Linked DNA regions of Homo sapiens. The protein of the gene in region 5 interacts with the protein of the main gene of each other region in a pairwise test. Each region holds a gene or a part of one and is shown on either strand. Other genes may lie near its edges. The genes, in order: CD69, TMEM237, RNF170, GOLM1, SLC35B2, SHISAL1 and TMEM248.

Region 1 (3,469 bases), on a different chromosome or scaffold from region 5:
GTTTTGCATTGTCAGTTACTTAAGCAGCCATTTTACATTTTGGTTTTTGAGAACATAATAGGGACCTGTATACTCCTTGTGGGGCCGCATTTTAAGACTCCTGACAGCTCATCCTGCAAAATTAAAATCCAAAATCTAAGTCGCAAAATTCTCTTTTCTCCTTCCTCAGTTATTTACTTAGAGTGTAGAACAGACATCCTCTTAGAGTTTTTTGTAACTATCAGTTATCGTTAACATCATATTTTTATTCTAAATCCTTCCATAGAAACACTGCTTGTTGGGAAAAAAAAAGGCTTTTACTTTGTTTCACCATTGTACAGAGGGTAAATGAAATAACTTTCGCTGAATATTTGGTCTATAATACTGTTACATTTCCTCTATTATTTTAACATCTTTTGAAAAATTCAAATTTTTACTGTTCATTCACATATCATTTTAAATTGAGGTTTAGTTCACATACGATGAATGCACAGCTCGTAGGTATACAGTTTAACGACTTATGACAGTGGTATAACCACAAGACCAGCAACATTTGAATCTTTCCATCACCCTAGACAGTTTGCCCTGTGTCCCATTCCAGTTAAATTACCTTTCCTACACACACAAAGGCAACTACTGTTCTGATTTTTGACACCAGAGCTTAGACCAACTATTATTTAAAGTCATGTAAATGCAAATATGTAGTATACAATCTTCTGTGGCTGGATTTTTTTTCACTCAACATTTTTTTTGGAGATTCCTTCATTTTGTTGCATGTATCAGTTGTCTTATTTTGAATTGCTGAGCGGAATTCCCTTGTATGGATATACCATAATTTGTTCACTTATTTTCCTGTTGGTGGATATTTGGATTATTTCTGGAATTTGGCTCTTAAGAATAAAGCTGCTAGGAGCATTCTTGCACAAGGCATTTTGAGAACATATTTTCATTTTTCTTGAGGATATACATAGGAGTAGGTTTGTTGGGCCATAGAAAAGGCATATATTTAATTTTATAAGAAACAGTTTCCAAAGTGTTTTTCCAATTTACTCTCCCACCAATAATATCTGAAAATTCCAGTTGCTCCACATCTGCAGCAACTTCACCAAAAAATACTGTCACGTTTAAAATTTTGTTCAGTCATTTTAATGTCAGATATTTATATAGCAATTCAATATTTTACTTTATGATATTATCCATATTTATCCCATTCACATCATTTCTCTCAAACAGTAACTACAAGGAGATTAAGGAATTATGCTAGAATTTTTTATTTATTTATTTATTTATTTTTTTAGACAAGGTCTCACTCTGTCACTCAGGTTAGAGTGCAGTGGTGCAATCTCCGCTCACAGCAACCTCTGCCTCCCAGGCTAAAGCGATCCTCCCACTTCAGACTCCCAAGTAGCTGGGAACACAAGTGCGTGCCACCATGACCAGCTAATTTTTTGTATTTTTGGTGGAGACAGGGTTTCACCATGTTGCTCATGATGGTCTTGAACTCCTGAGCTCAGGTGATCAATCCACTCACCTCGGCCTCCCAAAATGCTGAGATTACAGGTGTGAGCCACCATGCCCTAGAATTTTTTTATGTGTCTTCTGGGGCATGTGCATATTTAATAAACGTTCTTATCATCATTAAAACAAACTGATTATATACTTAGAATTTTCATAGTTACTAAGTGTATAAATCATATGTGTCAGGTAAATATTTTGGGGAGACACTTTATAATCTCATCATTATGCTTGAATTGTTTCATTTCAAGCCAACAATAAACTATTCAAATTCACTCAAAATTGGGGGTAAATTAACTTAGAAATTTCTATAAAGAGACGGGGAAATTTCATATAATGAGATAGGAAATATTAAGTTTAAATGCCTCAAAAGAATGTTGCATATTCCTATAGTACTTCTATAGTCTGCCTGAACTCATCATCAACTTTCTCCCTTCCAGATGATGCCACCAGTCCCCATTTCTCAACACGTCATGAAGGGTCCTTCCAAGTTCCTGTCCTGTGTGCTGTAATGAATGTGGTCTTCATCACCATTTTAATCATAGCTCTCATTGCCTTATCAGGTGGGTCTACACTTCATCAATTCTTTCAAAGCCTCCTAGCTGTAAGCATTCATGCCCAGCTGAAATCAATATTAGTTTAGTCTAGTTAATCAGAAACTAGCTAATTCAGAATCATCCCATGTACCATATATGGCCAATTTCCTAATCAATACTAAACATAATTCCACAATCCTTGAATAATTAATGTAATACTTTTATAAGTATTAAAAGTATCTATGATTTATATATTACTGTAGAATAAAATTGCATTTGAAAAGATGTTTACATCTAGAATGAAGGGAGCTGATTTGAATTCTGAATAAATACCTATTTAGCTAGAAAAAAATGTGAACTTCACATTCATTGATTATGGAAAAAAATCGTATCTAAAGCCATAGATTAATCAGGAAGTGGCCAGTCTTTTGTGTTTTATCTCAAAGGACACAGAATGGTAGTTCTGAATAATTAAGATTATATTTAAAAGTTCCCAGAGAGTCAGTAGTGATTTGGTATTCAATACCTCCAGCTGTACCAAGATATATTTGTATCTTTTACAAATGGGAATGTTTACCATTGTTTTGAGATATTCTGAGTCATATGTCTTTCTGTATTTTGAATTGGTTCCCTAAAAGTTAGTTACTCTCTCCATCTTTCCAGCCTAGTGCTATAAATACTGCATCTTCAAATTCTTCCGCCTCTGCATTCAGATTCAAAACCTTATTTGAAATGTATAATGCACTTTATCCTTTCTAGTCCAAAGAAATATCTAGTCCAAATTTTCAGAATTGTTCTATATTTCTGTCATTTTCTGACATTATGACCAAAAGTACATCCCCTCATCCTCATATCTCCATCCAATGATGATTAGGCACAATGGAAGATCAGATATGGTCCTGAGAACTTTCTTTCTTCATACCCTTTTCAGAATTCTACTTTTTAGCTTTTATCCTTTACTTTATCACCACCTAGCACAACATAGCATCCTAAGGCTAGTTTTGCATGCTGTGGGTATTTGGTTTCTTTTGTTACTAAAACAAAGCATTTTTCTGTTCACAGTGGGCCAATACAATTGTCCAGGCCAATACACATTCTCAATGCCATCAGACAGCCATGTTTCTTCATGCTCTGAGGACTGGGTTGGCTACCAGAGGAAATGCTACTTTATTTCTACTGTGAAGAGGAGCTGGACTTCAGCCCAAAATGCTTGTTCTGAACATGGTGCTACTCTTGCTGTCATTGATTCTGAAAAGGACATGGTAAGAATAAAAAAAAGATAAAATACTACTATTTTAATTCATATGGCTAATCAGTGCTTTCCTTCCGTTTCTAAGTGGAGAAAACAAACAAACAAACAAACATTGTACCTATTTCAGATGTAGGAAAATGTCATCCCAGAGAACCATATGATCAGCCTGAGGTCAAAATGAGATTTA
Region 2 (4,011 bases), on a different chromosome or scaffold from region 5:
TTTTAAAGGTGAAAAATCCTTGAATTTTAAGAATAACAGTTATAATGGAATGTTATATTTAAAAGCCTGAATATCAACATGGTAGGATAATGGATCCATTCCCTTTCTAACTGTTTTGGTGTCTTTTTTTTTTTAAATCAGAATTCTGGTCTTTTGTGAGAATAGTTTCCTCAGAGTTTAAGCTGATTTTAATCAGTCACAAGTAAGAGTTCTTAATCTGCTTAATCCATTTTATTAATAGACAGTAGGGAATATGTATATGTAGGTTCAGAAAATATTGACATTATTTTATTAGCAGTGTTATTAAACCACTTAATTATAAACAGTAAACTAGTTTGTAAACTAGCTATTATGTGAAAGCTAATTTTATTTTAAATTTGTAATGATTTAAGTCAATTTTCACTGTGAATATTAACAGGTTTCTAATTAATTGTTTCTTTTTTGTCTTTGTCCTGCTGATTAAATTTGTTTGGTGTTATATGACGTGTTAGTCAAGGTGAGTTAGTTTAATGTAAATATAATATTTGGTGTTCAAAAATTAGTTTGATTCCTTGGTTTGTTTCTCTTAAAACTGAGTCTGAATGGTGTAATTTGTAATTCTACAATATGTTTTTGTGAAATAATCTCCCATGACTACCATTTAAAAATTGTCATTGATACATAGCACTAGATGACCTTTCCATTATAAAAGCACTTCATCCCTGAATGGGGTCACCCAGCACATAACTGTTGGCTAATTTGTAGCTCTATAATGAGGACTGCACCTTCCTTTGTCTCATTTAGTCAGGGTAGACAAGGTTATACTATACTAAAACCCCCAAATCTCAGTGACTTAGTGTCACACAGGGTTATTTCTAATTAATACAAAGTCTGCTATGGCAAAAATGGGGGACCATTACCTTTCACTACCTTTTTACTATTGATATAGCAATCTAGGCTACTTTTTTTTTTCTTTTGTTTTGAGACAGAGTCTCACTCTGTTGCCCAGGCTGGAGTGCAGTGGTGTGATCTCGGCTCACTGCAATCTCTGCCTCCTGGGTTCAAGTCATTCTCCTGCCTCAGCCTCCTGAGTAGTTGGGATTACAGGCGTGTGCCACCATGCCCAGCTACTTTTTGTATTTTCAGTAGAGACAGGGTTTTGCCATGTTGGCCAGGCTGGTGTCGAACTCCTGAGCTCAAGTGATCTGCCTGTCTTGGCCTCCCAAAGTGTTGGGATTACAGGTGTGAGCCACTGCGCCTGGTCTGCAATCTAGGCTACTTCTGTGCTGTGGTCCCACCATCTTAACATGAGGCTTCCTCAGTCACCACAACAAGGGAAGAGAAAGCTGGAAGATTACTCACTGGCTCTTTCAACGTTTGGCTCTGAAATGACACAGATCACTTCTGCTCACAGCCTATAGGCCAGAACCAGTCATAGACTACACCTATGTGCAAGGAGGCTGGGAAATATAGGGGATCAGATGAATATTTGTTGAACCCACTTTCTGTGTCATGGTTTCTAACATTACTGACATGCAGTGTGCTACTGGTACCACACTGTGGGCTCTCTCTGATCTTCTCAATTTCTTGCCTTCTTCCCCTAATCTATAAACGTTTGCCAGGCCCAGGGAAGAGAGGGAGAATTCTTCCCTGTTTAAAAGTTCTCTTCTGACTGTTCTCTGCATTGAATTTTAGGCACCCTTTTCTGTTGACGTTTTTTCTTGCTTTATAGATGATATTCCACTTAGTCGTCCTAAGAAAAAGAAGCCCAGAACAAAAAACACACCAGGTAAGACGTTATTCTTTGTTGTGTGGGATCACAAGTTTTCCCAGGACCTCAGGCGTAGTAAACATCACAGATAAGGGAGAATTAAGGCCCCAGCAGCCCCGAATCTCCACTTCATTGAGGATAGAATTAAGGCCAGTTTGAAGCAGTGGAATTCCTGGTGGTGGTGAGGTACAGGGCAGTGGGCAGCCTGAGGAGTATCTGGACGCATTCATGGAATAGAAGGTGGTGCCATCTAAGCTCCTATTTCCATGATATTCCTGGACTCTTTAAGGTCTTTTATCCCCAGACAACATACATGGTTTTAAGCTATGATTGATTCCAGACCCTTGAACAAGATACTGAATTTAGAAACACAGAGTTCTTAAATCTCACTTCAATCAGAATATCTCTACATTACAGCATGAGTCTGAAGGCATGGCCACATCATCATTTAAATAGTAAAGCTTCAGTCATGAGCAGAACTCGTTTTTGTCTTAGTCATCCACTGATAATCCTGGAAGTTGCATCCGTAACTCTAAACTCAGCACATCTAGAATCCATCGTTGCCTTTAAGAATAAATAATTTTTTTACGTCTCATGATTTTCTGTTAATGGAACCTACCATTTTCCCAGCCCTCAGGCCTGAAACCTCAAGATTATCTTTACCTGATCCTTTAACTTCACTCTTTACTTGAGACCTCTCACACTCCTAAAAGGTTTCTGTGGTTGCTGCTCCTTTTTTAAAACAAACAAACAACAACAAAAACATAAAAGGAATCATACATACTATCTTTGTTTCTTAATACATAGAGTTCTATGTATTCTTAAACAGTGACTTCATTGTATTACATGATAAGAATGTACCATAATCACTGCTCTGTTATTTATTTAGGTTATTTCCAATTTTTCACTCCAACAATGTTGCAGTTCTGCATAAAATAGTGGGTGGTAGGGAAGAAGTACTTCTGTAGGATGGATTGCTAGCAGTGGAATTGCTAGGTGCAGGATGTGTGCATTATTAGTATGACTGACTCTGCTAAATTACCTTAAGGAAGCTTTAGTTATTATCTTGCTACCTGTAGAGTCTGAGAGTGTCTCATTCTCTAAATCCTTAACAACATTGGACAATAATCAATCTTTAAAATTTTTTTGTTAATTTAGTGGGGGAAAAGTAGCTTATTTTAGTTTACATTTCTCTATGTACTACTGAGGTTAAACATTTTCATTTGTTTATTGATACATTTCTATTTTTTTTTTTTTTTTTTGAGACGGAGTCTTGCTCTGTTGCCCAGGCTGGAGTGCAATGGTGTGATCTTGGCTCCCTGCAACCTCCACCTCCTGGGTTCAAGCGATTCTCCTGCCTCGGCCTCCTTGAGTAGCTGGGACTACAGGCGCATGCCACTACACCCGGCTAATTTTTGTATTTTTAGTAGAGAGGGAGTTTTGCCATGTTGGTCAGGCTGGTTTCGAACTCTTGACCTCATGTGATCCGCCTGCTTTGGCCTCCCAAAGTGCTGGGATTCCAGGCATGAGCCACTGCACCCAGTGCAATTTCTATTTCTTTTGTGAAGAAGACAAGCAAGGAAGGGAATGCAGTCAGGTATGTGTTAAAATTCTTTTAAAAGATTTCATGAGGGAAGAAGTTGAAGTGAATGACCAAATGAAGAGACTTATAAATTACCTGCTAACTCCAATTATCCATGATGACTTTATTATTCTTTAACTTATTAATGAAGGACTTTACTATATAGAGGCTGATGAAAATTCTTAAGGCAAGAGGCAAGTAAGAGAATTCTCTATGGTATCAGTTTTTATTATGTTTTCCACCTTTTTCAAAGTTCTAAATGTTCTGAAGCAATTTCTCCTCCTCCTGTCTTTTGCTCTTCTTTTTAGCCCCCTCGTTTTTTCTTCCTCAGCCTTTCTTATTCCTTCATTTATTTCTTTTCCTAACTTAAAGCCCAAAGTTACAGGTGAGGAGGAAGGAAAGATTTGGGGGATAATTAGTTCTGAAAGAGATGGGGTTATTCTATAGGAAACATTCTAGTTACCTTTTCCTCCATCTTTTTAAGATTCAGTGATCTTTGCTCAAGTAATCTCATTTTTTTCTACTCTGTTTTTCTATAGCAAGTGCTTCTTTGGAAGGCCTTGCTCAGACTGCTGGTCGAAGGCCCTCTGAGGGCAATGAGCCATCAACTAAAGAACTCAAAGAGCACCCAGAGGCTCCTGTTCAAAGAAGACAGAAAAAGACAAGGCTACCTCTTGGT
Region 3 (4,011 bases), on a different chromosome or scaffold from region 5:
ATTTTCTAGGCATTGGGAATTCAATTGTGAATTAAACAGACAAAAATTCCTACCCTCATGGAACTTATATTTATTGATACAAGAATAACTTAAGCGGGGCCAGGTGCAGTGGCTCACGCCTGTAATCCCAGCACTTTGAGAGGCCAAGGCAAGCAGATCACGAGGTCAAGAGATCAAGACCATCCTGGCCAATATGGTAAAACCCCATCTCTACTAAAAATACAAAAATTGGCCGGGCATGGTGGCGCACACCTGTTGTCCCAGCTACTTGGGAGGCTGAGGCAGGAGAATCACTTGAACCCGGGAGGCGGAGGTTGTAGTGAGCTGAGATTGCGCCACTGCACTCCAGCCTGGTGACAGAGAGTGAGACTCCGTCTAAAAAAGACAGAATAGTTTAAGCCTATTAGTAGTACTGTGTTCCATAACAATTGTTACCCATAATTCATGTTGAGATAGTGTTTTATAATTTACAAAGTGATTTCCCAAACAACAATTGTATTTAATCTTTAGACATAAGTAAGGCAACTACTATTATTCTCATTAACATATGAGACTGCTAAGATTTGCTAACACTCACACTAGCAATTTCATGACTGGGTTCAGCTATGGAGGGGCCCCAGATTGAGGAGAATCTTCCAGGTCTCCTTGCAGCAGTGTCCACTCAACTGCCTCACCTCTTCCTGAGGCCCAGCACACAGCTCTCAGAGTGAAAATAAGGCTGGCGATGTAGTCTGTTCTGTGCTGTCCAGTATGGCAGCTACCAGCCACCTGTGGCTATTCAAGTGAGTTAAAATTAAACACAATCTGAAATTAAGTCTTTTAGTCACACTGGCCACATTTCAAGTACACAATGGCCACATGTGGCTCCTGGCTACTGTATTGGATAGCACTGATAAAGATTTCAATTATTGCAGAAAGTTCTGTTGGACAGCACCGTTAATTGTTTTTTGTCAATTTCTTTAAAAATTAATAAGGAGAAGGCTGGGTGCAGTGGCTCACGCCTGTAATCCCAGCACTTTGGGAGGCTGAGGCGGGCAGATCACCTGAGGTCAGGAGCTCAAGACCACCCTGGGCAACATGGCGAAACCCCATCTCTACTAAAAACACAACTTTAGCCAGGTGCTTGTAATCCCAGCTACTCCAGAGGCTGAAGCAGGAGAATCACTTGAACCCAGGAGGCAGAGGTTTCAGTGAGCTGAGATTGTGCCACTGCACTCCAGCCTGGGTGACAGAGCGAGACTCTGTCTCAAAAAAAAAAAAAAGTAGAGAAGGGAACATAAAGTGCTGTACACTTTTTGTAGCATTAGAACTGACATAAGTGACTATAACATCAAGGTGTAGCCTTGGATCACAGAATATTCTGGTGATTTAGGACTGTTTTGGAAGTATGAAATTTTAGTTATATTTATTATTATTTAAATTTATTAAATTTGTTTATGAATATTGAGTGGCAAAAATCTGATTCACTTAAGAACAGTTCCTATTTAGTAAACTTAATACTTTTTTCTGTAATTAGATATTTTTCATGCTAGCAACTTTATCTGTGCTGGGTTCCATTAAAACAAGTTTTGATAAATAAGTTTTACAATACAATAACATAAAATATATGTTATGTAGACACTTTTTTTTTTTGAGACAGGGTCTCTGTTGCCCAGGCAGGAGTATAGCGGTGTGATCTCGGCTCATTGCAGTCTTTACCTCTTGAGTTCAAGTGATTCTCCCACCTCACCCTCCCGAGTAGCTGGGACTACAGGTGTGCGCCACCATGCCCAGCTAATTTTTGTATTTTGTGGTAGAGACAGGGTTTCACCATGTTGACCAGGCTGGTCTCGAACTCCTGACCTCAAGTGATCCACCCACCTCAGCCACCCAAAGTGCTGGGGTTACAGGTGTGAGCCACCGTGCCCGGCCATGTAGACACTTTTCTAGGTCCTGAGGTACAATGAGTCCTACAGATAAATCCCTTGCCCTCATGATCCATCCTAGTGAGGTCTTTGATATCTAGATGTTTCTTGCATATGTGCAACACTTTTAAAATGAAAAAGATGTTGAAAATGAAAAAAGTGAAGACTTAGAAAACAGTTTGACATTTGATATTTTTTTCTTTTTGAGACAGGGTCTCGCTCTGTCACCTAGGCTGGAGTGCAGTGGTGCAGTCACGGCTCACTCCAGCTTCAACCTCCCAGGCTCAGGTGACCTCCCACCTCAGTCTCCCAAGTAGCTGGGACTACAGGCGCATGCCACCACCACTCCTGGCTAATTTTTCTATTTTTTGTAGAGATGGGGTTTTGCCATGTTGCCCAGGCTCGTCTGGAACTCCTAGGCTCAAGTGATCCACTTGCCTCGGCCTCCCAAAGTGCTGGGATTACAGGCGTGAGTCACTGCACCTGACCTCGACATTTATTATTGTTAGCTTATGCACTAGCTCAGCCTTGTGTTACTCAGAATAATTTACTTATTCCAGTAGAGTAAAAGATGAACTCTTGAGTTAATCTAAGTTTTTGTCTTTAAATTGTGTTTAGGAAGGAAAGTGGAAACCATGCAGCTTAAATAAAAACAATATAGCCTCATAACATTCTTAAAATTATAACCTTAAACTATTGCACGTTTACAGTTTGATGAGGGTTACACACTGCTGACTCTGTTCTCAAATATAATTTAACATGAGATACTGTTGAGGGCCACATGTGTTGTGTTCCAATGTGTGCACCTGTGTTCTTATTAGGATGCACCTGCTGCCACTCGACAGCAGTTCTACACTGACATGTACTGTCCCATCTGCCTGCACCAAGCCTCCTTCCCGGTGGAGACCAACTGTGGACATCTTTTTTGTGGTAAGCAAACAACGCTATACTTGGGAAAAGTGACTGTGTAGACCAAGACCTCTATGTGTACAAAGGCTGGATTCCCAATTTTCTCTTTGTCACATTTTGTATTTTGTGAGTAGGGTAGATTACCTCTGATATCCTGCTCTACTTGTCAACCAAGTATACTTAGCATCTAAATAATATACTTACTTATTTATTTTCTATTTAGTGTGTCCATGTAGCAGCTATGGGTTCAGAGGTTAAAGAAACTATTCAGCTTCCCCATAAACAGAAATGTGTTTGTTTGGACAGTAGTTCAAGTAGATCCATAGCATGAGGGATTCACTGAGTCCCTCTTTGTTCATCACTTTTTGGGACTTTCATTTATTATTCATCCTTGCCAGGGCAGGAAGGTTCTTCTCTCAAGAACCTGCCCAAGACCCTGCCTTAGTCCTCCTGCCTCTTTTGACTCTGAGTTTGTACTAAAAGTCTTAAAGGTCTTAGTCTCAGTCTGTTTGTCTCTGTCTCTGTCTCTCTCAACCTCTTGAGGTTTAATGAAGGAGAATGAGAATCCTAGAGCATACCTTGGGGTAAGAAGGGAATAATTTCACACTTACTTAGTATCAGGAAGGAGTGCTTTCCACCACTTATTTTTCCTGAATCTGCAGATTCAGGAAAATCTTCTATGGCTTCTTACGCCATAGAAGATTGAGGGGCAAAGTATCAGTTATTACATGCCTATGTATTGGACATTAATGTACTTCATCTAACCCCACCTATGAGGAAACAGGCTTTAGAGATGTGAAGAAATTTTACAAAGAGGCCAGGCGCTGTGGCTCACGCCTGTAATCTCAGCACTTTGGGAGGCTAAGGCAGGAGGATTGCTTGAGCCCAGGAGTTGGAGGCCAGCCTGGGCAACATAAGGAGACCCTGTCTCCACAAAAAATAAGAAATTAGCCAGGCGCAATAGCTCACATGTGCAATCCCAGCTACTGGGGAGGCTGAGGAAGGAGAATCGCTTGAGCCCAGGAGCTTGAGCCTGCAATGAACTGTGATCATGCTACTGCACTCCAGCATGGGCAGCAGAGCAAGATCCTGTCTCACAAATAATAATAATACATTTTACAAAGAGTAGCCCAGTTGTTAAGTGACAGAGCCAATTTTTTTTTTTTTTTTTTTGAAATGCAGTCTCGCCTTGTCGCCC
Region 4 (4,011 bases), on a different chromosome or scaffold from region 5:
GCCTCCCAAGTAGCTGGGATTACAGGCACACACCACCATGCCCAGCTAATTGTATTTTTAGTAGAGACAGGGTTTTGATATGTTGGCCAGGCTGGCCTCAAATTCCTGACCTCAGGTGATCGTCTGCCTTGGCCTCCCAAAGTGCTGGGATTATACACATGAGCCACTGTGTACACCCAGCCTATCAAGTGATTTTTAATGTGAAAACACACCACTTGTTTTAATTTTGGGAAAGCCTGGAGCCTCACAGAGTTTAGCTGATTTAAGTTAATCATTTTCAGTATGTTGGAAGCTTATAACCAAGTATGAGACAAACATATTCTGAAGCTTAAATGAAAATGAATATTAAATTAATACCTCTGTTTGATGCAGTATATCACTCACCCACTTCCATCTCATCCGCAATCCAAATAAATTCTAAGGTGGGAGAAGGGAGAGTGTCTGATGTATTTGACCACCATAAACTCTGCCTGTGAGTTCCTGCCACCAGCCTTCATCAGTCTTGATCATTTCTCGCCAGTGTGTGTCCCTTATCCTTCAGCAGCAAGGGTTTCTACAGTCCTGGAAGCCTGTGAGGAGGCACCTTGCAGGCCTGAAGCCTCATTGTGTTACTTCCTTTCCTTGTGTCACTATTTACCTGGGCAGCCCTGCTCCCATTGGGAGCCCAGGGCTCTCCTAAGAGTGCTGTCTAGACAGCTGCTCACCTTCCTGGCCAGCCAAGCACTGGGTGACAGTGAGGGGCTTCCAGGATTGTATGACTTCCAGGACTGTTTGAGGCTTGGCTTCCTCAAACCTTTTTCATAATATGATCCTGGTCTGGGATGTCCACGGCCTCAGTGGCAACTGTAGGTCAGCCCCAGGTAATGGCAGGTACTGCTATTTTAGTTGGTGGCAGAGTCAGGAGAAGGAAAGAGGAGGACTGGTTGCTATAAAGTAGAATGGTTATGGAAGGAAAACATGCATCACTGTTTCCTCATAAAATGGAAAAAAGATTGAATCTAGAAATGATTTGTTGTTCATCTTTCCATCCCTAATAGTTGTCAACATTTGTTGAGCAATTACTATGTGCCAAATGTAGCTCTAAGCGCTTCTCACTCAACTCACTGAATCCTCTTAAAAACCTTGTGAGCAGGACAGTGATGCACAGACAGGTCCTGTGTCCCCTGAGTGGTAGAGCAAGGGTCAGACATGGTTGTGGGGTTCCAGTCTTGGAGTTCCTGAGTGGTGGAGCCAGTGTCAGACATGGCTGTGAGGCTCCAGTCTGTGGGGTTCCTGAGTGGTGGAGCCAGGATTCAGATATGGCAATGGGATTCCAGTCTGTGCTCTTAATACCACCCTGAGCTGCCTGATGTGAATACAGCACCTGACTCATGGTAGCTGCTCAATAAATTTTTTATTGGCTGTTTAAAGAAAAGAGAATATTAAATGGTTATCTGTACACTTCCCTTGAAGTGAGAATGGAGTTTATTTTCTGCTTTCAAATTTATAATATACCCCACCCACTGACTTACCTCTACTAGAATAACAAAAGGCCTTGCAAGGGTCACATCTAAAAGTATTTTGTCAAGCCATGTGCGGCAGCATGTGCCTACTCGGAGACTGAGGTGTGAGGATTGCTTAGGTCCAGGAGTTCAAGGCTGCAGTGAGCCATGATTGTACCACTGCACTCCAGCCTGGGCGACAAGATTCCATCTCTTTAAGAAAAAGTATATTGTTAGAAAATTTAGTATATAACAAAGATAGTTGTTCAAAGCAGTAGGTAAAAATAGATTATTCAGTAGAGGGCCCTGGCAGAACTGGCTTGTCACTACAGGAAAAAAAAAAGCTGCATTCTTTGTATTTCCTTACTTCTGCATTCTTTGTATTTCCTTACTCCTTACATCAAAAAGGAGTTTTAAATGGATGAACAATTTAAATGTAAATATGAAACTGTACATTGGAAAAAAATGTGGGTAAGTTGTTTATAAACTTAGAATAGGAAATGCCCTTCTAAATATAACAACAATCGAGAAGTAATAAAGGATTGACAAGATTAGGTTATTTAAAACAACAACAGAGTGGCTGGTAAGATGGCCAAATAGCAACAGCTCTGGTCCGCAGCTCCCAGCGAGATCAACACAGAAGACAGGTGATTTCTGCATTTCCAACTGAGGTACCTGGCTCATCTCACTGGGACTGGTTAGACGGTGGATGCAGCCCACAGAGGGTGAGCAGAAGCAGGGTGGGGCATCGCCTCATCTAGGAAGTGCAAGGGGTTGGGGAACTCCTCCCCTAGCCAAGGGAAACTATGAGGGACTGTGCCATGAGGGACAGTGCACTCTGGCCCAGATACTACGCTTTTCCCATGCTCTTCGCAACCCACAGACCAGGAGATACCCTCAGGTGCCTACACCACCAGGGCCCTGGGTTTCAAGCACAAAACTGGGCGGCCATTTGGGCAGACACTGAGCTAGCTGCAGGAGTTTTTTTTTTTTTTTTTTTTTTTTTTTTGGTACCCCAGTGGCACTTGGAACGCCAGCGAGACAGAACTGTTCACTCCCCTGGAAAGGAGGCTGAAGCCAGGGAGCCAAGTGGTCTAACTCATTGGATTCCACCCCAATGGAGCCCAGCAAGCTAAGAAACACTGGCTTGAAATTCTTGCTGCCAGCACAGCAGTCTGAAGTTGCCCCGGGATGCTCGAGCTTGGTAGAGGGGAGGGGCATCCGCCATTGCTGAGGCTGGAGTAGGTGGTTTTCCTCTCACAGTGTAAAGAAAGCTGCCAGTTCGAACTGGGTAGAGCCCACTGCAGCTCGGCAAAGCCACTGTGGCCAGACTGCCTCTCTAGATTCCTCCTCTCTGAGCAGGGCATCTCTGAAAGAAAGGCAGCAGCCCCAGTCTTACAGATAAAACTCCCAGCTCCCTGGGACAGAGCACCTGGGGGAAGGGGTAGCTGTGGGCACAGCTTCAGCAGACTTAAATGTTCCTGCCTGCCAGCTCTGAAGAGAGCAGCAGATCTCCCAGCATAACACTCAAAGTCTGCTAGGGGACAGACTGCCTCTTCAAGTGGGTCCCTGACCCCTGTGCCTCCTGACTGGAAGACACCTCCTAGCAGGGGTTGACAGCTCACCTCATACAGGAGAGCTCCGGCTGGCATCTAGTGGGTGCCCCTCTGCGACAAAGCTTCCAGAGGAAGGAACAGGCAGCAATCTTTGCTTTTCTGATGCCTCCACTGGTGATACCCAGGCAGTGTCTGGAGTGGACCTCCAGCAAACTCCAGCAGACCTGCAGCAGAGGGGCCTGACAGTGAGAAGGGAAACTAACAGAAAGGAATAGCATCAACAAAAAGGACATCCACACAGAAACCCCATCTGAAGTTCACCAATATCAAAGACCAAAGGTAGATACATCCACAAAGATGAGGAAAAACCTGCACAAAAAGGCTGAAAATTCCAAAAACCAGAATGCCTCTTCTCCTCCAAAGGATCACACCTCCTCGCCAGCAAGGGAACAAAACTGGACAGAGAATGAGTTTGATGAACTGACAGAAGTAGGCTTCAGAAGGTGGGTAATAAACTCCTCCGAGCTAAAGGAGCATGTTCTAACCCAATGCAAGGAAGCTAAGAACCTTGAAAAAAGTTTAGAGGAATTGCTAACTAGAATAACCAGTTTAGAGAAGAACATAAATGACCTGATGGAGCTGAAAAACACAGCACGAGAACTTCGTGAAGCATATGCAAGTATCAATAGCCAAATCGGTCAAGCGGAAGAAAGGATATCAGAGGTCGAAGATCAACTTAATGAAATAAAGCGTGAAGACAAGATTAGAGAAAAAAAGAATGAAAAGGAATGAACAAAGCCTCCAACAAATATGGAACTATGTGAAAAGACCAAACCTATGTTTGATTGGTGTACCTGAAAGTGAGGGGGGGAATGGAACCAAGTTGGAAACACTCTTCAGGATATTATCCAGGAGAACTTCCCCAACCTAGCAAGACAGGCCAACATTCAAATTCAGGAAATACAGAGAACACC
Region 5 (4,660 bases):
ACTGAAGCCAGGCAGGGTCTGGGATCCTCAGGGCTCCACCTCTCCATCTGGAAGCCGGAGCCATAACTGCTGCAGTTTGGGCCCAGGCTATGTGCTCTTCTGGTGCCCTAGGGACTGCTGTGGCCAGAGCCTGGGGCCAGCCAGTACAGTCCTGAGCCGAGGAGGAGGGACTGCAAGTGGAAGAGAGCCAGTCTGGAAGGAAGAGCTTTCCAGGTGGACAGGGCTTCTTGGAAGACCCCCAAAGCCCCAGGTATCCTGGGTGAAGCCTGTTTGCCTCTCTTGAAAATGGCAGGTGCTCTTGTTTTACCCATGTTGGGTCAGCCTGAAACTGCCAACCAGTAGGAAGCATGGACTCTCCTGAGTGAGAAGAGACTGAAATAGGAGCAAGCAGAACCCTGAGAGGTGTCCCATCTTATTGCTGTTGAGGACCCTGAAACACCGTTGTTTAAAGACTTCACACAGAAGGCTCTGAACTGAGCCACTGGGGAAGGGAAGTTTCAGTAACATGACACTAAAATGGCAGAGACGTTAAAAAAAGTTTTTCCCTTCTAGAGCTGTTTTGCGCGCATGCATGTCTGTGTGCATTGGGGCTTTTTAGACAGGCCTGCCCTGTGACTTTGTGGTAGAGGCAGAGAGAAGGAAATTGTCCCCTGAGCACGGTAGGGCCTTGCTGGGTGGGGTCAGAGGCCAGTAGTTCCAGGCCTTTCTCTGTGTCCAGCACAGACCCTTGTCCTTGCTGTGGAAATGATGAGGGATGGAGGGACAAGAGGAAGAATGAGAGGACACACGCCCTGGAGCCCTCACCACTGCCCTGGGGGTTGCCATCTGGAGGAGCCTGGGGATAAGGGTAACCCAGGGAGGCTGGGCACGAGGGAGCTGACTCCACGTTTTTCCCCCCGTTCCTCACCTTCGAGGGCCCTGCTAGGTCACCCCTATGCTGGCATGAAGAGCATGGGGCAATAAACCAGCACAGTCTCTGACCACTTGGAGCGTCTCATCCAGTGAGAGAGACAGCCGTTAAAAGCATAAACATCCAAATAAAGATGCCTTTCCAAGTTGCAGTGGGTGCTATGAAGGGAAAAGAATAGTGGGAAGGAAAAGGATGGAGTCGGTAGAGGGTCATACTTTGGGTGGTCCGGGAACCCTCGCCTGAGGAGTATCATCTCAACTGGGATGTAAGGATGAGTAAAGGGATGGGGGCAGAGCATTAGGGGGAAAGCCTGTGAATTAGAGGAACTGAGAGCAAGCCAGTGGGGCTTCACAGCGGGCGAGTGAGTGGGCGAGGAACGCGGGCGAGGCCATGTAGAGCCTCGAAGATCATGGGAAGTGGGACAGAATTACTACCCAGCCAACAAAGCAAGGAGACACCTTCATCCTGTCAGAAAACGGGGAAACTAACACAGAGGAGCGGCTTGGGATGCAGAGCCTCAATGTCCTGTCCACAAGATGGCAATGGTCACCATGACCTCTGGGACGCTTATGAAGGGCGATGACGAAGCACAGGGGACACGCCGGGCGGGCGCCTCTTCAGGGCTGGGGCTCCCCGCGCCCAGGGGCAGCCCAGGTCCCCGGAACCCAAGCCGCGTCTGCCTCCGGGCCGCGCGGGGGCGCTGTGGTCCGGCGGCGGCCCGGGGCGCTGCGTGGTCGCGGCAGGGGCGGAGGGGGCCGCGGGGAGGGAGGCGGGAAGAGCGCGGCACTTCCGCTGGCCGCTGGCTCGCTGGCCGCTCCTGGAGGCGGCGGCGGGAGCGCAGGGGGCGCGCGGCCCGGGGACTCGCATTCCCCGGTTCCCCCTCCACCCCACGCGGCCTGGACCATGGACGCCAGGTGGGGGCTAGGGCAGCAGCGAGCTCACGTGACCGAGCCCCCGGGCCACGTGACTGCCGCGCCTCAGCACGGGGGCCGGGTGGGGTCCCGGCTGCTCGGCCGTCGGCCAGCATATCGCTGCCCGGAGCCAGCGGGGATGGGAGCTGCGGCTTGGTTTTGTGCTCCTTGGGGAGCTTCGGGCGGAGGGGCTGGGGACCCTGACGTCCCGGATCGTGGAGGGGAGTGTGGGGGAAGGGGCGCTTCCTCTGACCTGAGCAGCCGGCTAGCGTTGGAGGGAACAGAGGAGACCTGTGTGGCCAGAGGGGCGGATCCGCCCCCGGGGAGGGAGGAAGCTCTGCCTGGCCAGCGCCGGCGCACCCCCTCCCCGAGAGAGAGAGAGAGAGAGAGGCTCTTTGTCCGGGCCGGAGCTGCAGCGGAGGGGGCGGGGAGGAGACTCCGGGCACTACTCCAGTGTGGTCCCCTCTGGAGGGCGGAGGGGATGAGGAGCTGCGCCCTAATCCTTATGTCCGCTTTCCTTACAGATGGTGGGCAGTGGTGGTGCTGGCTGCGTTCCCCTCCCTAGGGGCAGGTGGGGAGACTCCCGAAGCCCCTCCGGAGTCATGGACCCAGCTATGGTTCTTCCGATTTGTGGTGAATGCTGCTGGCTATGCCAGCTTTATGGTACCTGGCTACCTCCTGGTGCAGTACTTCAGGCGGAAGAACTACCTGGAGACCGGTGTGTGAAGAAAGGGCGGGGAAGTGAGCTAGGTCGGGAAAGAGGGTATTTGGCCAGCAGTCCAAACGGGATATGACTTGGAGAGGGCGGGAGGTCGGTAGGCCGGACAGCAGGGCAGGCTGGCTGCTCTGGGGAAGATGAAGTGCTATGGAGAAGATTTGGGGCTTGACTTTGTGTGCTTTCTTCAGGTAGGGGCCTCTGCTTTCCCCTGGTGAAAGCTTGTGTGTTTGGCAATGAGCCCAAGGCCTCTGATGAGGTTCCCCTGGCGCCCCGAACAGAGGCGGCAGAGACCACCCCGATGTGGCAGGCCCTGAAGCTGCTCTTCTGTGCCACAGGGCTCCAGGTGGGTAGGTGGGCTCAGCCTCTCTTCCTGGGTTGGATGCCGGTGGGCAGGGATTCTGTGAAGGTTTCCATTTTACCAGTCCCAGAGCTTTGCTGGCTGGTGTGTTTCGTGTCCTCCTCCCAGGGGCACACTGCACCTCCATCTTTGAGGTGTTTGGGGGAAATGCCCTTTTGTTTCTTCCTTTTCTCCTCTCCAGCACTGGTACTGAAAGTTCATGCTGTTATTTCAAGATGTCTAGTGCAGAAGAGAGGACTCCTCTTGCCCTATTCTCTGTGATTTCTACTGTGCCGTTATTATACTTCCTTCCTGCACTGGTGTCTCACATACTGTAAACCCACTGATAAAATTGTGGGGGAGCCATTCAGCCTTCCCCCAGTACTGCATGTGAGAGAGTGCTAACATGCTGACCCCATGGCATTTTGCAGTGGGTACTAGTTCCACCTTGAATATCATGTTGAACTACAGATACCCAATTCTGAGAGTTCTTGCCTCCCTGAATAGGTTTTTCACACACAGTTGATTCCCTACAAGGTGAATCCAGACTTAGGAGGGGAGAAGAAACTTCTACAGAGGAACCAAAAAGTGTATATTTTCCTTTGAATCACTTAGGCATAATCCTGAAGAGAGAGAGGTCAATTTTTGTCTACCTTTTCATTATCTTGCTTATTGTCTCCTTTGTCTCTACCTTCCCCAACAGGTGTCTTATCTGACTTGGGGTGTGCTGCAGGAAAGAGTGATGACCCGCAGCTATGGGGCCACAGCCACATCACCGGGTGAGCGCTTTACGGACTCGCAGTTCCTGGTGCTAATGAACCGAGTGCTGGCACTGATTGTGGCTGGCCTCTCCTGTGTTCTCTGCAAGCAGCCCCGGCATGGGGCACCCATGTACCGGTACTCCTTTGCCAGCCTGTCCAATGTGCTTAGCAGCTGGTGCCAATACGAAGCTCTTAAGTTCGTCAGCTTCCCCACCCAGGTGCTGGCCAAGGCCTCTAAGGTGATCCCTGTCATGCTGATGGGAAAGCTTGTGTCTCGGCGCAGCTACGAACACTGGGAGTACCTGACAGCCACCCTCATCTCCATTGGGGTCAGCATGTTTCTGCTATCCAGCGGACCAGAGCCCCGCAGCTCCCCAGCCACCACACTCTCAGGCCTCATCTTACTGGCAGGTTATATTGCTTTTGACAGCTTCACCTCAAACTGGCAGGATGCCCTGTTTGCCTATAAGATGTCATCGGTGCAGATGATGTTTGGGGTCAATTTCTTCTCCTGCCTCTTCACAGTGGGCTCACTGCTAGAACAGGGGGCCCTACTGGAGGGAACCCGCTTCATGGGGCGACACAGTGAGTTTGCTGCCCATGCCCTGCTACTCTCCATCTGCTCCGCATGTGGCCAGCTCTTCATCTTTTACACCATTGGGCAGTTTGGGGCTGCCGTCTTCACCATCATCATGACCCTCCGCCAGGCCTTTGCCATCCTTCTTTCCTGCCTTCTCTATGGCCACACTGTCACTGTGGTGGGAGGGCTGGGGGTGGCTGTGGTCTTTGCTGCCCTCCTGCTCAGAGTCTACGCGCGGGGCCGTCTAAAGCAACGGGGAAAGAAGGCTGTGCCTGTTGAGTCTCCTGTGCAGAAGGTTTGAGGGTGGAAAGGGCCTGAGGGGTGAAGTGAAATAGGACCCTCCCACCATCCCCTTCTGCTGTAACCTCTGAGGGAGCTGGCTGAAAGGGCAAAATGCAGGTGTTTTCTCAGTATCACAGACCAGCTCTGCAGCAGGGGATTGG
Region 6 (4,011 bases), on a different chromosome or scaffold from region 5:
CTGTCTCTGTCTCTCTGTCTCTGTCTATCTCTCTGTGTCTCTGTCTCTGTCTATGTCTGCCTCTGTCTTTTTCTATCTCTGTCTTTGTGTTTCTGTCTCTGTCTCTGTCTTTCTCTGACTCTGTCTTTCTGTCTCTGTCTCCATCTCTCTGTCTCTGTCTCTGTGTCTCTCTGTACCTCCTCATGCCCGCATGCTCTAACAGGGTCACTGACACTGGCCTGGTGGTTTTCAGCCCCTGCCCCTTTGCTGGGGGCAGCTCAGAGGGAGGCTATGAGGATGTCTGGGGGTGCTTGGCAGGGCTCCCCGGACAGCAAAGCCAAAGCCACGCCCAGGCCAGGGGTCTGGGGGCTACCCAGCTGCTCTCCCCACCCCAGATGCTTCCCATGCTTTGGCTCACCTGGTCCTCACCATCCCTGGAGGACGGACCCACTCAGCCCATTTTACAAATGAGGAAGGTGAGACACTCAGAAGGAAAGCGGCCTGCCCGAGGTCACCCCTTCAGGGGAGGGGCCAGCCAGTGAATCAGGGCCATCCAGATGCAGGAGTTACGTGGAGCTGTGCACACAGGGGTGCGTTCATGGTTGAGGCTTCGGGGCCCGAAATGCGGCTCTCTCCTTTGCGTCCCTGCTCTGCTGGGGCCTCCTAACAGAGTGTCCCTCGGCCTGGAGTCACGCCATGCCCCAGAGCAGAAGCCCACGGATGCTGCCCTTTACTGCCCTTTACAGCCTCTAGTGCTCGTAGGGCCCCTAGTGCACACACAGCCTCTTTCTCTAGGTGGGGGCTGCGCCTTGCTGTTTACAAAACGCTCCTGGGAGCCCCCAGCCCGCCTTGGAGACCATGAGTCTTTCATCAGTGAGGGGAGGAGGCCAGAGAGGTCACGATGGCCCAGGCAGCCTCATGCCAGGACTCCCACCCGGTTGTCCCGGCTCCCAGCCCAGGGCTCTGTTGGCTCCGGGAAGGCAGCCGGGGAGGCTTCATCGTTACCAAATGGCCAAAGCCCATGGCGCTGACCGCCCAGTGGTGGCCGGGTGAGCTGGGTGCTGGTAATGGGCAGGACCCTTCCACATCCCCCAACCTCGCCGGGCCTGCCCTCCCCGGCCCCCCATCTCTGCATATCAGGCTCCTCCCAGTCCCTTGAGGCCCAGCTCAAAGGCTGCCTCCCCATGCTGCCCTACCGCTCTGTCCCTTCCCTCCCTGAGTCCTGTGGTAGCCTCACGGGCTGGTCCCAGGGCCTAAGCTAGACTTTCTGCCCAGCAGCGTGAGTGTGCCTGGTTCCTCCCCAGCTGCCCACGCACTGAGCGTGAGCAGGGCCTCCTCACTGACCTGGGCAGTGACCCAGACAGTGACCGGAACTGGCTAGCTGCCTCTGCCCCTTGCCGCTAGGCCAGTGGGCCCCAAACCCAAGCCCATCAGCATCCCCTGGAGGGCTTGCCAGGACAGACGGCGGGGCCTACCCCGGAGCTTCTGATTCAGAAGCCCAGTGGCCTGAGAATCTGCATTTCTGACAAGCCCTCCGGGGATGCCCTCGAGGCCGATCAGGGGCCACACTTTGGGAACTGCTGCTCTGAGCCACAGTTTTCTCCCCTGTACGATGGGAATAAATGAGATGGGGTGAGACAGCTGTCTACTTGGGGCTCTCTAATAACCTCTACATCCCCAGAGGGGGTATTCTTCTTTCTTAAGGTTGAGGAAGAGAAGGGGGCCTGGAGAGCTCCCCTGGTTCCCCAAAAGCTGAGACCTTTCTCTCGCAGTGGTCATGCCCATCCCCACAGAAGAGGGTGCTGTCTGTGGGGGAAGGGGTGTGGAATTTCATGCCCCCCGCCGGAGGCAGCCTCAGCACCCCAGCACATGAAGGCCGCCTGCCCATCTTCCAGCCCAGCCCAGCCCAGCTGGGACTCCCCTGCAGCAGCCCCGGGTGGGTAGGTGGGGAGCTGTGTGGGCTGCAGTCTAATAACCTCTCAGCAGACACAGAGCTTTCAACGAGCTGGAGGAACTCCTGCAAAGCCACTGCCTTTGTGGTTAAAGGAATGTATTCAGCCAGCGAAGCCCCTTTTCAGTGATACAAATTAGATACAGCGATCTCTTTTATGAAGATACTAATTAAGCCTGAGAGAGCGGGCTTTAGGTTTTTTCCATTGTTATATTTGTTCAGACTTTCAGTCCTGTTTATCACCATCGGCACGACTCGTAAATACCATCCTGGGTTTGCAGTAGCATTGGTGGCTGAATAGGGGCCTCCGCCCCTGAGCAGAGTGGTGGGAGGGTTCCAGGCCAAGGCAGAGCTACCACCGTGAGGTGGGGGTGACTGAGGCAGGCCCTTGGGGACCTTGGGGCCTAGGGTACTAGTTTAGTAGAAACCAAGGAACGAAGGGTCTGCTGTTTTTGACCCAAGAGGTACCCAAGAGGTCCTTGCACCTATGCCAGCCACCACCCGGGCCAGCCTGGGCTGAGCAGCAGGTCCACCACTGCCCACCTGGGAACAAAGAGCTAGTGATACAAGACTGGAGAGGGCCCCAAACTTTGAATCCAGGCCTGAGTTCCATTCCTGTCCCTCCAACACTTATCAGCTCGGGCAAGTCACCTTAGGTCTCTGAGCCTCAGTTTCTCCATCTGTAAAGTGGGATCTCAGACTTGCTTGGCTGTGTGAGTTAAATGAGATGGGTCTGTGAAGCATACAGTAGGTGCTCAGTTAAGGCTGATTTCCTAATTGAGTGACTGCTGCATGTCAAGCATGTTCACCGAAGCAGGAGAGCCAGCCCTGCCCTCCAGGACCAGCCAGTCTGGGTGACACAGAGAATGTAACCAGGGCTGGGAGGCTCGGGGTAATGGGAACCCAGAGGTGAGGCTCACAGTGGACCACAAAGGCATCCAGGGGAGGGAAGAAGCAGGCAGGACCTGAGAAGAGGCCGGCCAGTCCCCCTGCCTCTTGGCACCCGTGGACTGGTGAGGGACCCCTCTGAGCCTGGTGACTCTGTCTTCCAGTCTTGTCTGCACATTTCCGGGTCTGTGAACCATACACAGACCACAAAGGCCGCTACCACTTTGGCTTCCACTGCCCCCGGCTCTCGGACAACAAGACCTTCATCCTCTGTTGTCACCATAACAACACGGTCTTCAAATACTGCTGCAACGAGACGGAGTTCCAGGCGGTGATGCAGGCGAACCTCACGGCCAGCTCCGAGGGTTACATGCACAAGTGAGTGCCACTCTGGGGGTGCAACCCCACTGCCTCGGGCCCCAGGCAAGGGGCCTGCCTCCCAAAATCGCGTCCCCTAGGGAGGCGGTTGGGTAACCGCTATAAGGTTGGGTGGGCCTGGAAGGAGTCTGGGAGAGTCTTTGGATGACCAGGGTTTTCGGCCCATTGTGCCTTCTAAGTTTCAGCTTTCTCATCTGAGAAATGGACACAGAGGCCAGGCGCGGTAGCTCACACCTGTAATCCTAGCACTTTGGGAGAATGAGGTGGGTGGATCACCTGAGGTCAGGAGTTCGAGACCAGCCTAGCCAACATGGTGAAACCCCATCTCTACTAAAAATACAAAAATTAGCAGGATGTGGTGGCAGGTGCCTGTAATCCCAGCTACTCAGGAGGCTGAGGCAGGAGAATCACTTGAACCCAGGAGGCAGAGGGTTGCAGTGAGCAGAGATGGCGCCATTGCACTCCAGCCTGGGTGACAAGAGTGAAACTCCGTCTCAAAAAAGAAAAGAAAAGAGGGAGGGAGGGAGGGAGGGACACAGAATACTCACTTTGCAGGGTTACCATAGAAGCTAAGTGAGGTTAAGGATGTGGAAAGCTTTCAGGCGTAGAAGGCGCCTGGGCCTGTAATCCACCGGGTTCCTTCATTCATTCTTCATTCATTTAACAAATACTGATTGACACCATTGACCCAGAGATTAATCCCATGCAGTTCTTTTCCTTAAGGTGATTAAAATACATTGGGATCAGGGCCTGATGGAGGGGACCACAGGTGTGGAGAAAGAGAGAGTTTGCTGTTAGAAAAGCAATGGGAACAC
Region 7 (4,011 bases), on a different chromosome or scaffold from region 5:
AAAAAAAAAAAAAAGAAAAAAAAAAATTAGCCGGGCATAGTGGTACACACCTTTAGTCCTGGCTACTCGGGAGGCTGAGGTGGGAGGATAGCTTAAGCCTAGGAGTTCAAGGCTGCCGTGAGCTATGATCACGCCACTGCACTCTAGCCTGGGTGACAGAACGAGAGACCCTGTTTCTTAAAACACACACACACACACACACACACACACACACACACAATATTTAGAAGATTCAAACTGAAAGAGAATATGTATTCAGGATCCTGCCACTTTGAGGTAATGGCAGTTAACATTTAGTGTTTCTTCCTTCTAGTCTTTTGAATGAAGTTATGATCCGACATTTCTCAAATTCAGTAATGAGTGCCCATCCCACCCAGCTCACCCCCCAACACCTCAAAAGGAAACAAAAGAATCATAGCTTTCCTGTTGGCAAGTCAGTCCTTGAAGCTTCTGATTCATTTCTTTCAGGTGGAGCTGATCAGAATAATGTTCAGCATCAACCCCCTGGAGAACCTGAAGGTGTACATCAGCAGTCGGCCTCCCCTGGTGGTCTTCATGATCAGCGTAAGCGCCATGGCCATAGCTTTCCTGACCCTGGGCTACTTCTTCAAAATCAAGGAGATTAAATCCCCAGAAATGGCAGAGGTATAGTATGCTCTGACTTCTCCCGGGCTGGCTGGTCCTTGTGCAGTGGGGCAACACCCTGTGGCTTGCCATATAGCTTTCTTGGGTTTTGGCCTTTCTCTCCTAGTGAGAAAAATCAGTATTTATTCAGAATTTTCTGTTTTCCATCTCCCCAGGACTCACTTTGTTAGGAAATACCTAGATGGGTATTGTTCGATTTAAATATGCTACCAGTTTCAGTTAGACTATTTTAGCAGTGAAACATGCACTTTGGAGAGTACATTTGTAAAATGATCTGTGTCAAAAAGCTGGAGACCTCACCTCTGTAATATTCCATCTCAAATGGGTTCATTGCTGTTTTAGAAAACTGAACATTTGGTATTTTAAAACCACATATCATCATGGAGTTTTATCAGCTATACTAATGGTTTTTTTCATGAGATAAGAAGGAATCCTAAAGAAATTCAAAAACAGGACCTAATTTCCAAATATATTTGTTTTTTGTTTTTTGAGACGGAGTCTCGCTCCGTCACCTAGTCTGGAGTGCAGTGGCGTACTCTCAGCTCACTGCAACTTCCACCTCCCGGGCTCAAGCGATTCTCCTGCCTCAGCCTCCTGAGTAGCTGGGATTACAGGTGCCTGCCACCACGTCTGGCTAATTTTTGTCTTTTTAGTAGAGACGGGGTTTCGCCACGTTGGCCAGGCTGGTCTCGAACTCCTGACCTCAGGTGATCCACCCATCTCGGCCTCCCCAAGTGCTGGGATTACCGGTGTGAGCCACCGCATCCAGCCTAATTCCTGTCTTTTAGTAGATTCCTTGGGTGCCTTCTCTTATTCTATTTCCTTCTTCTTGGGTTTGTTGGTGGGTGGAGGTGGGGGTGGGAGTGGGGCTGGGAGTGCGTGGTTGCCGCATTGAGTGTGCCTTGCAATGGAGAGGAGAGTTGTGTTCCATGTAATTGAGATCGTAGCTTTCTCTCATGCTCTAGGGCATTCTAGATCTTAAGTGATCTTGGCAAAAGGAACCGCCTACACATGTGAGCTCTTTCTAGCACAGTTCAAGTAACGAGTTTTAGCTATTTCTACCATGTAACCCTTTCAAAGAGTTTATTACTAAGAGACATACTGGCTGGCTTAATTCTCTCTCTTTTCTGACCCTGCCTCAATCTTTAAAGGTTGTGAAAACAGGCTGCCCCCACATCAGGGCTGAAAATGAATATTCTACTCAAAACTAAAGCTGCACAGCCTCCTGCCATTTCTTTCCCGCAGAGCTTGAGTCCATGTTGAGCACTTGGCCAAGGCCAGTGGTTGCACTGAAGCCTGGATAATTAGCCCTTAATAATCCAAATTAGGCCTGGCATTGGCTTTAGCCAGCTGTTCAACGTGGACTCCAGCTCTGTAGGAACGCATTGTTGAGATGCTGCGGAACTTTGGTTATGATTAGTTTCGTGATTTTTGTTTTCAAATGAGGATCCTAGGTTGTAGGAAAGGCAGTGGTGTATGGGAAACATTTGGGGCTGTGAATCAGAACTTAATGCTGATTTTACCTTGAACTAGAATTGGAGAGTCCCTAATTTGCCCTGGGCCTCAGTTTCTTCATGTCTAGGATTATGAAGGACTGAGACTAGAATGTTCATTTTCAACCCTAATGTACTAGAATGGTCAGTTGAGTTTGTAGGTGTTAGGGAAAATGTAATTTGATAGATCCAGTTGCAGTCTTACTAAATGTCACATACAGTTAAACTGATGCTGTAAGGGTAGACTTACTGGGCTGGGTAGGGGTTGCTCAGATGACTTTTTTTTTTTTTTGAGGTGGAGTGTCACTCTGACACCCAGGCTGAGGCTGGACTTCAGTGGCGCGATCTTGGCTCACTTCAGCCTCTGCCCCCCTTCAAACGATTTTCGTGCCTCAGCCTTCCAAGTAGCTGGGATTACAGGCATGCGCCACCATGTCCAGCTAATTTTTGTATTTTTAGTAGAGACAAGGTTTCACCATGTTATCCATGCTGGTCTCGAACTCCTGGCCTCAAGTGATCCACCCTGCTTGGCCTCCCAAAGTGCTGGGATTACAGGCGTGAACTACCGTACCTGGCCTCAGATGGCTTTTTTTTTTTTTTTTTTTGAGACAGAGTCTCACTGTGTCGCCCAGGGTGGAGTGCAGTGGCACGATCTCCTCTCACTGCAACCTCCACCTCCCAGGTTCAAGCGATTCTCCTGCCTCAGCCTCCCAAGTAGGTGGGATTACAGGCACACACCACCACACCCGGCTAATTATTGTATTTTTAGTAGAGACGTGGTTTCACCATGTTGCTCAGGCTGGTCTCGAACTCCTGACCTCAAATGATCCACCCACCTTGGCCTCCCAAAGTGCTGGGATTACAGGTGCGAGCCACCGTACCTGGCCCCTTCCTTTTTGAAATCGTTGCTGCTCTAAGGTGTCATCAAAAGTCCATAAGAAGGGGGGCAGTGTCCCAAATGAGTATTAGTATTCACTGCTGTTTTGTGTTCTAGAGAAAGAGAGCAAGGTGTATGGAATTGACCTTTTGGGACATTATTTTAAGGTGACTTTATTTAAAGAAAAGAATTGTAGTTGCAAAATGAGTTTGGATTAATGCTTTTCTTCAAGCGTTCTTTTCAAGTTTGGTTCTGAGGCTAGATCATTTTCTCTAAGTGTAATATGCTGGATTTTTTAAAAAGATTTTCTTGAATAAATTGATTTGATTTCACAGTTTATTGAGTATCTTGTGCCAGTGAAGAGTTCATATTTTAGGTTGTGAATATAAAAGTGATTAGGAAAGCCACATCATGCTGCCTGTGAAGAGGGTGGTGGCCGAGTTGTCATGATCTTAAATGATCAGCTCTGAATTGTAGTTTGCTGATGTGCTGCGGTGCCACACTGGGGTCTTACCTGTATTCCCGCAGTGGGAGACAGGCGCTGCTTAACACCCATTTCTCTTTCTTTCACTTTCCCAAAGGATTGGAATACTTTTCTGCTACGGTTCAATGATTTGGACTTGTGTGTATCAGAGAATGAAACCCTCAAGCATCTCACAAACGACACCACAACTCCGGAAAGTACAATGACCAGCGGGCAGGCCCGAGCTTCCACCCAGTCCCCCCAGGCCCTGGAGGACTCGGGCCCGGTGAATATCTCAGTCTCAATCACCCTAACCCTGGACCCACTGAAACCCTTCGGAGGGTATTCCCGCAACGTCACCCATCTGTACTCAACCATCTTAGGGCATCAGATTGGACTTTCAGGTATGCAGTAGCCACTCTCCACTCAGGCTCCTTAGGCAACCACTGTTACAAAAAGAGGATGCACCGTGTATGTTTTTACTGACTATATTGTACTAGATTGTAGTCTTGCGCGTGTCTTTTTTTTGTTGA

The links.
Region 1: the proteins of SLC35B2 (region 5) and CD69 interact in binary tests that used the Homo sapiens proteins (3 or more experiments, as listed by UniProt).
Region 2: the proteins of SLC35B2 (region 5) and TMEM237 interact in binary tests that used the Homo sapiens proteins (3 or more experiments, as listed by UniProt).
Region 3: the proteins of SLC35B2 (region 5) and RNF170 interact in binary tests that used the Homo sapiens proteins (3 or more experiments, as listed by UniProt).
Region 4: the proteins of SLC35B2 (region 5) and GOLM1 interact in binary tests that used the Homo sapiens proteins (3 or more experiments, as listed by UniProt).
Region 6: the proteins of SLC35B2 (region 5) and SHISAL1 interact in binary tests that used the Homo sapiens proteins (3 or more experiments, as listed by UniProt).
Region 7: the proteins of SLC35B2 (region 5) and TMEM248 interact in binary tests that used the Homo sapiens proteins (3 or more experiments, as listed by UniProt).

What each region holds. Positions count from the first base shown.
Region 1 is NC_000012.12:9,754,885-9,758,353, reverse strand, and holds part of CD69 (early activation antigen CD69), read left to right. Parts: intron 1-1,934; coding exon 1,935-2,057; intron 2,058-3,092; coding exon 3,093-3,292; intron 3,293-3,469. UniProt on the Homo sapiens protein: Transmembrane protein expressed mainly on T-cells resident in mucosa that plays an essential role in immune cell homeostasis.
Region 2 is NC_000002.12:201,636,746-201,640,756, reverse strand, and holds part of TMEM237 (transmembrane protein 237), read left to right. Parts: intron 1-491; coding exon 492-496; intron 497-1,711; coding exon 1,712-1,768; intron 1,769-3,871; coding exon 3,872-4,009; intron 4,010-4,011. UniProt on the Homo sapiens protein: Component of the transition zone in primary cilia. Required for ciliogenesis.
Region 3 is NC_000008.11:42,868,827-42,872,837, reverse strand, and holds part of RNF170 (E3 ubiquitin-protein ligase RNF170), read left to right. Parts: intron 1-2,725; coding exon 2,726-2,834; intron 2,835-4,011. UniProt on the Homo sapiens protein: E3 ubiquitin-protein ligase that plays an essential role in stimulus-induced inositol 1,4,5-trisphosphate receptor type 1 (ITPR1) ubiquitination and degradation via the endoplasmic reticulum-associated degradation (ERAD) pathway.
Region 4 is NC_000009.12:86,089,266-86,093,276, reverse strand, and holds part of GOLM1 (Golgi membrane protein 1), read left to right. Parts: intron 1-4,011.
Region 5 is NC_000006.12:44,254,564-44,259,223, reverse strand, and holds the start of SLC35B2 (adenosine 3'-phospho 5'-phosphosulfate transporter 1), read left to right. Parts: upstream 1-1,695; 5' UTR 1,696-1,813; coding exon 1,814-1,824; intron 1,825-1,935; exon of another isoform or gene 1,936-2,042; intron 2,043-2,345; coding exon 2,346-2,539; intron 2,540-2,727; coding exon 2,728-2,882; exon of another isoform or gene 2,883-2,886; intron 2,887-3,579; coding exon 3,580-4,518; 3' UTR 4,519-4,660. Other genes in the region: NFKBIE (NF-kappa-B inhibitor epsilon), read left to right, coding at 1-5. UniProt on the Homo sapiens protein: Probably functions as a 3'-phosphoadenylyl sulfate:adenosine 3',5'-bisphosphate antiporter at the Golgi membranes.
Region 6 is NC_000022.11:44,295,857-44,299,867, reverse strand, and holds part of SHISAL1 (protein shisa-like-1 precursor), read left to right. Parts: intron 1-2,982; coding exon 2,983-3,196; intron 3,197-4,011.
Region 7 is NC_000007.14:66,941,380-66,945,390, forward strand, and holds part of TMEM248 (transmembrane protein 248), read left to right. Parts: intron 1-468; coding exon of another isoform or gene 469-486; coding exon 487-645; intron 646-3,596; coding exon 3,597-3,882; intron 3,883-4,011.